2 separate regions of the Homo sapiens genome follow, and region 1 is linked to region 2. Evidence: fine-mapped expression QTL. A gene starts in region 2. The other region holds a variant in brackets. All regions are shown on one strand. Distances are between the middles of the regions.

Region 1 (5,371 bases), 21 kb before region 2:
CCGGGTTCAAGCAATTCTCTGCCACAGCCTCCTGAGTAGCTAGGATTCCAGACACCTGCCACCACCAAACCAAGGGGTGTCACCATCTTGGCAAGGCTGGTCTTGAACTCCTGACCTCGTGATCCACCCGCCTCAGCCTCCCAGAGTGCTGGGATTACAGGCGTGAGCCACAGCACCCAGCTGGTCACTGCGTTTTAGAGACATTAAGCAATTTGCCTGAGGTCATCCAGCTGGTGAACAGGGAAACCAGGACTCGAATCCTAGGTGCCCAGTGGTAAATCGGCAGAATATCCAGGCTGACCCCATTTGTGTGACACAGAGAGGATGACAAAGAGGATACTGAAGTTCCTTAGAGATTCCTGGAGACTGGCCTTAGCAAGTAGGTGGTGTCAGTGGGGCAGGGGACCACAGCCTGGGCCTGGAGTCAGCTCTGCCCGGATGCGAGTGGTGACTCGGGGACTAAAGCTCCCTGGGCCTCATCTGTGGACTTGGGATAATAATGGCAACAAACGTGAGACCCAACGTTTATTGAGGGCTTACTGTACAGATTCACTATCTCAATTTTCCTCATCGCTAAATTGGGAATAACAGCAAGAATAGCAGTGAGAATAATAAATGATAGATACCATTTATTGAGCATTTATGTTATAAAAATCTCTGTTCTGAGAGATATACACACCTTAGTGTTCCTCATCTGTAGCCTGGGAATAATAATAATAAATCATATGAACCACTTACTGATCACTTAATGGACAGAAGCCTCTGATCTAAGTGAGTCACACATCTCAGTTCCCATTCTCTAGGGACTGGGAATAGTGAATCATCCCAACAATATGTGAGAGCTGGCATTCACTGAATACTGACTGTGTGCCAGGTCCTCTTCTACACACATTAGATAGTGTCCAACTTGACTGGTCCTTGGCAACTCTCCAGTGTCGTCTCCCATCCCACTCTACCTCATTCCACTCTACCACGCCGGCCTTCTCCAGACGTCTCCTCAAACACAGCGAAGTGCAGCCTCACCTCCCGCCTTGGCATGAGGCATGTCTTCTGCCAGGCCCACCTTTCCCCAGACACCCACAGGGCTCACCCCCTCGCTTCTCTACCTCGCTTCTCCGCTCAGATACCACTTCCTAGGTGAGGCCGTCGCTGACCGCGCTGTTTAAAATCCAGTGCTTAGAACAGTGCCTGGTACCCAGCAGGCAATCGGCAAATGCCTGCTTAGTCAGTACATGCTCAGTCAATGGCCGCAGCCTGCTGCTGGGTGCCTTTGGATTTGGGTCCCAAATGCCGGCCTCCAGAGTGGCGGACACATTTAACAGATCTGAGGTTGCCTGGGGGATGTGACCCCAGAGAAGGACCAGTAGGGCGAAGGCCCCGAGGGGACACGTGTTTTGGAATGTTTGAGACGGGTGGAGAGGCAGCCTTGGCTAGAACCCAATTTGTGAGGGGAGCTCAGATGGGCGGGCATGTCCCAGAGCCAGCGCGAGTCTGCGGGTCTTGCAGAGACTCTGGGTTTCCTGAGACCACCGGAGACGCACAGGCCCCGAGGACCGGAATGGGTTAACACCTGCCCTCCGGCCCCTGTTGACAACATAGATGGTTTGGGAACTCGAGATGAGGCCGTGGGGCGGGGGATACTGACACCCACTTACTCTCTCTGAGTTCAGGAGCATTTACCCAGCCTCTGTACGGCGCCCGGGGCTCGACTGGTGGGAGGGGTCCGGCAGAGGCCCCGCCTCGAGATCCCAGCACGCCCCGCCCCGCTCCACGGTGTAGCACAGACTCCGCGGAGAACGCGAGCATGGTCGGAAATCATCGCCTTTATTTCTTGGCGGGTCTCGAGGGAAGGTCGGGAACGGGCGGGTCCTGCTGGCCTAGAGGGCGTCAGGGGCAGCCACCGGCGGCTCGGGATCCTCCTCGTCGCGAGCGCGGGGGAGCTCAGGTCCGGCCTGCCGGGGGCTGGGTGAGGCTGCGGACCAGGTTCCTACGCTCCTCGCGTCCGCCCGCGTCTGCCCTAGGCCTCCACCGCGGCTTCCTCTGTCCCCGGGGCCGCCCTGCTCCCCACAGACCCCACTCTCGGGGGCCGCTCCCAGGACCCCCGCCCGCTCTCTCCTGACTCGGTCCCTGCCCGCCCCGCCTCCCTTCCTCGGGCTCCCTACCTCTCCCTCGCCGGCCCCGACCTCGGGGGCGCTCCGGACCTGCTCCCCGAATATCTCCAGCTCCGCCTTCAGCCTGCGGAGAAGGGGCCGAGGAGACAGGAGGAAGAGAGCGAGAGTCCAGGGGACGAGGAGGAAGCCACCGAGACGCGGAGACCCGACGACGCCGAGGGAGGCACAGGCCGGGGAAGCGGCAGTCGGGGGCGGAGCGGGGGACCTGGGCGGGTTCCCCTCCGCCCTGCCCCTGCCCTCCTCGCCCACTCCTCCCTTCCCCTCTCACCCGTCATTCACCGCCATGGCGCCCTCGACCTCAGGCGGCGAGTGCAGCCGCCGCTCCACCTCCCGCAGCTTGGCGCGCACCAGCCTCCCTGTCGGTGGGCGGGCGTCAGGGGCAGGGCCGAGGCCCGGGCACATCCCCCTCCCCCCGCCCACCTGGCGCGGGAGGCTCACTCTCCGAGAGCAGCTGCTCCTTGCTTCTCTCCAGGGCACGGATCTCCCGGGCCAGTCGCTGCTCCAGCATCTGCGAGGACAAAGAGGAGGCCTCCCCGTTTGGCCGTCCTCTTGGCTACACGGCC[C/T]GCCCCTCCCCTTTTGTGCTTCTCGCGAAGTCTTCACCTACATTAGGTCATTCATTCATTCAACTATTTATTAACTCAATGTGCAGTTCCTGCTGTGGCTGGAGACCCACCCACCTCCCCCTAAACGCTCTCCATGTCTCCAGGCACCTCTCAAACTTGAACTCTTCCCACTCTCCTCATCCTCCATTCCCCAATCTGCGGCTCCTCAACGGTTTCAGGCACCGTCCAGCCCCAGGGCCTTCCTTCTGCACCGATACCTGCACGGCTTCTTCCCTCACTTCCTTCACCTCTGCGTTGAGATGTCACTTGCTTAGAGGCCTTCCCACTGAAGTTCCACGATCTAGCCACTAACTTTCTTGGTGCCTCCACCGTCCCCAACCAGCTTGGGACAGCAAAGACGTGGACTCTTTGATCTGCTACCCTCCCTCCCTGCCTCAAATGCTGACCGGTGCAACCACTGACATTAGCTAAATGAAGGAATGACCTGACCATGGCTTTCCCTGGGCTGCCATTTGCCACTGCAAGGTGAACATACACTAGATGAGCAGGGGGAAAGCAGGATCACAATGGTACTGCACCCGTCTGGGCAGGTGATGCTGGGTGTGGCAGTGGGGCATGGTGAGGCGTAAGTTGATTTTAGATAAAAGCTGAGGGACTGAATAGGTGGGCAAGCGGAAGCAAGGAATCAAGGACTATCCCGCGGCATTGAGCCTGGGCAGGGGTGGACTCTGGGCCAGTCAGTGCGACACTAAAGCCAGGGAGGAGTGGCTTTGGTTGCAGGCAATGATAATGGCTCACGTGGAATTCCCAGAGGTCCTTGTGCTGGCCCATCAGATCCTCCAGCTGTCCTCTGACATCCAACCTGGAGGCCGACACCCAGGAATAAGAGAACACATGCTAGGCCTGACACCCTGTTGGGGGCTCCTCATGCACAGGCCTTCAGATCCTGCCCATGCTCCCTCTGCTGGGAGCCCCTTCATGGGTTTTATCCTCTAAGCTTTGGTTCCCGTAGCACCTCTTCCAACAAACTCTCCCTGATGCAAGCCCTGTTCCCACTTTCTACACAGTGGCCTGCCAGGCCCCAGGCTTGGGAGTTACCCCAGATTCCTCTGTTTGAGACTCTGAAACCTGAGAATTATGGGCAAAAATTTGTTCCATGCACTCTTGCAGCATGTGCTTCCTGGGAAGGGAAAGACAACCCTCAGTCATATTCTCTGAATGACCCATCATTCACTCCAGCAGGAGTGGGAGTTGGGATGTCTGTTCACAGCATTCACCTTTCTTGTTTCTCCTGTTGAATGAGAACCTTCATGGGCCTCTGTTGAGAACATTACCCTGTCCATCCTGTCCCCCATGGAATGAACTCTGCCTTCCCAAGAAAGCTTTGTGAGGCGTGTGGTAATTTGGCACCACAGATTCTATAACATCCTGGCTTGAACCCTAATCTGTTACTTCACCGAGACCCTGGCCAAGTTACTTAACCTCTCTGGGTCTCAGTTTCCTAATATGTAAAATGGTGGTAGTGATGGGAGGGTGACATTAGCCTTAACTCCTATAATTATCATTGTGAGGATTAGGTACATAAATGAGCATAAATGCTCATCATACAGTGTGAGTAGTGTGGTTGAGTATCACACATTAGCTAACATCAGGTTTCCCCATGCAATTAAAATCATGGTGCACCAGGATGAGAGACCTCTGGTAACAGGAGTGTGCTAGGTAAAAGTTCAGAAGATGTCGGGTGTGGTAGCTCACGCCTGTAATCCCAGCACTTTGGGAGGCCAAGGTGGGCAGGATCACCTAAGGTCGAGAGTTCGAGACCAGCCTGACCAACATGGAGAAACCCCATCTCTACTAAAAACACAAAATTAGCCGGGCATGGTGGCACATGCCTGTAATCTCAGCTACTCGGGAGGATGAAGAGATGGATGGATACAGGTTGGATAGACAGTTGACTGGATGTGTGAGTTGCTGGCTGGAGAAATGATAGCTGATTGGAGAAATGATGAGTAGAGGAATAGTGGCTGGACAGAGAAAGAAAGGATTGCTAAAAGGAAGGGTAGATGTCTGGATGGATGTTTGGCTAAGTGAATATATGATGGAAAGAATAAAGAGAGGATGAATGCATGATTGGATGGATGGAAGATTGTTAGGTGGAAGGCCGGAGATAAAACAGCCATCTGGCTGGATGACATGGTTGGATAGATGGATGAATGGATGAATGAGTGAGTAGGTGAATGGCTAGATGGGTGGATAGATGAATGGGTGGGCAAATGGATGACTGGGGCTTAAAATAAGGAGGCAAATAAGCAAGTGAATGGATATCAAAGGAGCTGGATAGCCAACAGAAAAAGACTGAGGCTAAGACCAATGGAGGGAATATATTTGATAAAGAAATTAGTAACGAATAATTAAATGAGTAAATTAATCTTAACACGACCATTTAATATCAGAGATAACCAAGGAAATCTTTTGTCAGGCTGCTCTATTTTATAGAAAGGTAAAATGAGGCTTCTGTGTCCAAGATTCATTTCCACAGCTCTTGCTCCCTCCTTTTTCAGCTGGGGAATGAGGTAGGGAAGAGCTGAGGCAGGGCCTCTTACCTCTGAGCCTCGCTTTCCTTCTCTTGGCAGTGCA
Region 2 (5,371 bases):
CTGGCTGACCATCCACACACATGGACCCAACCCTGGCTGGCTGGATAGTGCCTGAGGCAGACAGACCTACCCGTGCCAGCCATATTCCCAGTCACTGTCCCCCATTCTGCCTCCCACCTGTTTGCTCACCAGCGTAGATGGCACGGATGGCATCTCCCGCACTCTGCACAAAGGACACCAGGGCGGTCATTACACCCATGGTAGCCGACAGCGCCTCCACACTACCATACCGCGAGTAGATGGGCTTGCCAGCCTCACTCAGCACAAACACATGCTTCCGCTGGCTGCGCCACTCCTCATCACTGGGGTCCCCGCCCTGGCCTCCAGAGCTACTCTCAGGGCTACATGTGGGACTATTCTCAGGGGCTGCAGGACTCCAGAGCCGAGAGGTGCTTGACAGGGCCTCTGACTGGGGCGGTGGTGATGGGCTGGGTGGCTGGTCCTTGTCCTTGGATCCTGAAAGGGAGCCCCTGGTGGGTCATCTGCATGTGAACTCCTAACTAATCCCACATCCCCAAGGACCCACCAAATATCTACTAGCCCCTCCATGACCCCTGCATGCTGACGCAGAACTCCAAGTGTCTCCTATGCCCCTCAATGACCCGATGACTGCCCTAGGACCCCGCAATGATCTCCACTAACATTTAGGTTCCAATGAACTTCCTAAAACCCTAATAAACCAACATATTCTCATTGTTATTCCACTGGACTTGCTATGTTCCTACAGACCAATTACTTCCCTTTCAATCACTGTTATTCCAAAGTCTTCAAAGCACCCCATTGACTCTGGATGACGATTATTCATCTTCAATGATCCCCCATTAACTCCTCTGACCGCTATTTTTTCTCCTGATATCTGCTCACCCAATGGCCACCATTAACATCTATTAATATCTTAACTGTTTGAATGCCCCAACCCCCGCTACTACCCTATCAGTGATGCCCACTGATACCTGATGACCCCTACTAACTCTCCTGGTTGCCCATTTATATTCTTGGTAATGTCCACTATTTCTCCCAATGACTGTCGTTAATATCCACTAACACCCAGATATTTAGGACTCCCCTAATCCACTATTCACTCCCACTGTGGTTCACAAACACCCCAATGACCCCACATTAACAATCATTAACACCTGGTTTTTCAATGACCCTCCATGACTGCCCTGATCCACAAGTTATTCTACTCCATGTCTACTCCCCCCTACCCCCAACAATGACCATCATTAACCTCCACTAACACCCAGCACTTCAGAGACCTTCAGTCACTCCCCTGACCACCTTCAATCTCATTGGTATCCACTCCCCTCCCTACAGTAACCATCATAATATCCACTAACACACAAGACTTTAATGACTTCCATTGCCCCTACCCATGACCATCATTAACATTCACTAAAACCCACAACTTCAACAGCCCCTACTGACACATCCATTTATTCCCATTGATTTCCATTCATCCCCCAATGACAACCATTATTATCCATGTGCAACTATGTCTCAATAATTTTCCCATAAAATCCCAATAATTGCATATTCTGTCACTGACATTCACTGACACTCCCATGTCCCCAAATATCTTTACTCCCTCCTAATAACTGCTCTTACCTGCTATTAATTCCCAAGTCCTCAACCTCCCCATCCACATTTATTCTCAGTGAGGTCCACTGATCCTTCCCAATGACTCCATTTACATCCACTAATTCCAAAGTGATCAATGGCACAGACTTCTCAGTGACTTCCATTAAATCTCAAATGAACAACTTTACACATCCACTAACATTTGGTCCCTTAAAGACTTCCCCAACAGTCTACAAGTGACTTCAATGATGTAAATACTCTGAGTGCCCATCGAACTCCACTGATTCCCCTTCCCACTTCTATTATTTAATAAATAACACCCTACTCCTCAAAAACACTAACTTCTCAACAGTCCTCCTCTGTTGAGTCTATTGACTTTCTTCAGCGCATTCTTTGATCTAAACACTCTAAATCCTCAGTGACCCTCTTTGGTCCTAACAGCCCCCTTTTTGATTCCTCAATGACCTAAACTCACACCAAACCCCCAGTGAACATCCGTTGACAGCCAATGACTTCCTCAATGATGTAAACTACACCATGTGTCCACAGTGACCTCCTCCTGACCCGGCGATGGTTTAAGCCACTTCTCTTAAGTCCCAAGACTCCCTACTGGTCACCCACTGACCCTTCCCCCGTCCAACAATGACAACCCCTAAGGATTCCTTTTAAGACCCCACTAAGTGGAGTCATACCTGTTTCCTCCAGGCCCTCGTCTTCGGGATCCGGCGGGACCGCGTGAACCCCTCCACCTTCTCTAGCTTCCTCACTGGGGAACTGCGTGTCCTCCAAGTCCTCCGCGCCCCCGGGGGCCGGGGCAGCAGTGTCTCCTCCGACCTCCATCTGCACATCCCTGAGTGGGAGGGGAATCGAGGGTGACGGGCGGTGAAAGAAACTTCTGAAAAGCCTTTATAGAGTCAGGCCCCCTTGGACACACTCCTACTGCTCATTTCCCCACGGATTTCAATAGGACGAGACATCCAAAATCATGCCCAAATACGTCCCCCCTCCAACACTTTCCGAAAAGAGGAGACTCTACTGGGCCTCAGGAAATAGAGATATACAAACACCTGTTTTAACTCCGAATCTCAATTGGCCGGATACCATTACTTCCCCGTAGCGGCGGTGGCATCACACTTCCGGGTGCGGCCCGGGAGGTGCCACACTTCCGGGTACGACCCCTCCCAGAAGACACTTCCGGTTGCGGAGCTTTATTGGCTCCTCGCGGCGTCCCTCTCCCGCCGCCTACGGGTGTCCCCTCATAGTTGAGATGGCGCGGGCCACTTCGGATCTACGTCAGGTCTGTTCGGGAGCGCAATGAGACCTCTCTGCACTCCTTTCAACGGATCTGGCTACGGCTGCTAACCCGGGAGAGCGAGGCCCACTTCGCTTACCAGTGGTTGGCGTGAGGGGGGACGCGGCTCGCTCTAGCCAATCCCGGAGTACATAGGGCGCGACCGTCTTCTTTCTGGGCCAATCGAGATGAGCCGCCTCATTTCCCCGCTGTCTACTCCCCCCGCCAAATCCTAACCAATACTGTGCGTTGTGTTGCGTTTGCACACGCCCATCCATTGATTGACGTCTCCCTCGACCCAATCGAAGACTCGAGCCTATTCCTTGTTTCACAAGAGGACTTTTGCAGCGTCAGTCCCGATGGATACCTGTGCCGGACCCACAAACGGGCTCTCCCAGAACTGAGGCAACTCCACTTTCTCTTATCCCTTAACCCTGCCAAGAAAGTCAAGGGAGGGGAGAGGCGCGAATGCTTGACGGGCAGTCGCCGCTTCTAATCAGCGTGCCGCGCCAGCAGCTCCGTACCCTGCCGGGTTCCCACGTCTACCTGCAGCTGGGGGAAGAACTCTGCCAGCCCAGGGCAGGGGCGGGCACTCACTTGGACCAGGACCTGCCCGACGCCCCCGGTCCGCCGGGCGAACGGGTCGTCACTTTCTGTGATCAGTTTGGGAAAAGGCTTGGGGGCCCTGCCACGGGCCAGTGTGGGAACCCAGGGTTCGAATTCCCGCCCCGACGCTGCTTCCGGACCGAAAGCCCCCTGAACGCCTTGCCCCAAGTGCCCTGGGCCTTGGTTTCTCCATCAGTGAAACAATGATGGGAATCGCTTGACGTGAAGTGAGTGGAGGTGCTGGCACACTTCGAGTGATTGCTAAGGGGAAGCCTTTGGTACTAGTTAGGATAATTATTTTAATTACAGTATAGTTAGGGTAATGAATTCCAAATACCAGTGTAGCATCATGTGCTTTATATACAATAGGTAATCGATAAGTAATAAATATTAAATTTATATAACAGAAACAATGGATAAATTTATGTGCATACAAAATATATTTACCTAATACATTTAGAAGTATATAATATATAATAAACATGTAAAAAAGTACAATAAAATAACATCTCATAAGCAAACTTATTTATTAATCTCGCTGTGTTACCCAGGCTGGAGTGCAATGGCAAAATGTTATTGACTCATTGCAGCCTCCGTCTCCCGGGTTCAAGCAATTCTCCTGCCTCAGCCTCTGGAGTAGCTGGGATTACAGGTGCCCGCCACCACGTCCGGCTAATTTTTGTATTTTTAGTAGACATGGGGTTTCGCCATGTTGGCCAGGCTGGTCTTGAACTCCCGACCTCAGGTGATTCACCCGCCTCAGCTTCCCAAATTGCTGGGATTACAGGAGTGAGCCATCATGCCCAGCCCAGGGCTACACACTTTAAACAACCAGATCTCGCAATAACTCCCTCAGTCACTGTCACCAAGAGGATGATGCTAAACCATTCATGAAGGATTCACCCCCAAGATCCGATCAACTCCCACCAGACCCCACCTTCAATAATGGGGATTACCATTCGACATCAGATTTCGGTGGGAACATAGATCCAAACCTTATCAGGGGAGTAGAGGAATAGTTACGCCTTCATCTAGCTTTGTCAATCTGCATTTTTACCTCAGAGGAAGCAATCAGATATGCATTTGTTTCAGGTGAGCAGAGGGATGACTTGGGGTTCGCTCCTTTGTCTCGCACCTGTGAAGATAAACTATCAATTTACGTTGTCAGGGTAAAATTCAACAGAACCGTTTTAGGGTAAAGATCTTGCAGCCCACAAGGAATCCCTAGAGGGCAAATTATGAGGGAAGTATGTAGCTTTATCTTTGTAAATATCTTATTTAGGGATAAACTGGGAGGCAGGTTTGCCTGATGCAGTTCCCAGCTTGACTTTTACCTTTGGCTTAGTAATTTTGGAGTCCTGAGATTTATTTTCCTTTTACACCTGCCTTGTATTTCAACAAAACCATATCACAATTAGGCTCCTTTTAAAAATTCTTGCTGATGTGCTCTGTGAACTTTAAAGATTGTTTTCCAGGGAAAATGGCAGAACTAAGAACAATTGTCACACAGTCTCTTATCTGAAACCCTTAGTGCCAGATGTGTTTTAAATTCACACATTTTCCTGATTTTAGAAATGAAATTAGGTGCATGTGCCATGTATTATATAGAGCCCAGCAAGGGACTGGGAAACACCTGATAACTAAACTCATTTTTTCTGAGTGAAACTTTTTATTACTCCCAGTAAGAGAAACACTAAACCGTCTTATGTTAGTTTAGTTCAGGTTTTACCTCCAAGTGAGCTTTTAAAAATTATTTTTCTGGAGCTTTTTGGATTTCAAAACTGCAGACGTAAGTTTATGGAGCTTTATTAGCATTCCGTGTTTGATGATTTGCCACTCTAAACAATTTCTACAATCAAAGATGAGAGATGGGAACAAGTGAAGGAACATAGA

Evidence for each region.
Region 1: its variant is fine-mapped to the expression of MON1B in tibial nerve (GTEx, PIP above 0.99). The same link has a PIP of 0.9 or more in left ventricle, lung and skeletal muscle.

What each region holds. Positions count from the first base shown.
Region 1 is chr16:77,209,438-77,214,808 of GRCh38, reverse strand. SYCE1L (synaptonemal complex central element protein 1 like) reads right to left here. Exons shown (of 11, transcript NM_001129979.3): 6 at 5,338-5,371; 7 at 3,533-3,596; 8 at 2,610-2,679; 9 at 2,440-2,527; 10 at 2,163-2,235; 11 at 1,594-1,952. The coding sequence ends at 1,878. LOC124903726 (a long non-coding RNA gene) reads left to right here and starts at 2,678. Exons shown (of 2, transcript XR_007065121.1): 1 at 2,678-2,780; 2 at 2,878-3,222. RefSeq lists silencers at 1,649-1,698, 1,729-1,818, 1,929-2,258, 2,319-2,678 and an enhancer at 1,598-2,571. The variant C/T (reference allele first, on the strand shown) is at 2,735.
Region 2 is chr16:77,188,536-77,193,906 of GRCh38, reverse strand. It overlaps MON1B (MON1 vesicular trafficking associated B), which reads right to left and starts at 2,717. Exons shown (of 6, transcript NM_014940.4): 1 at 2,649-2,717; 2 at 2,274-2,431; 3 at 130-456. The coding sequence starts at 2,421. LOC124903725 reads left to right here and starts at 3,341. Exons shown (of 1, transcript XM_047435021.1): 1 at 3,341-3,999. The coding sequence starts at 3,341. The coding sequence ends at 3,685. RefSeq lists enhancers at 2,566-2,615, 2,636-2,925, 2,051-2,999.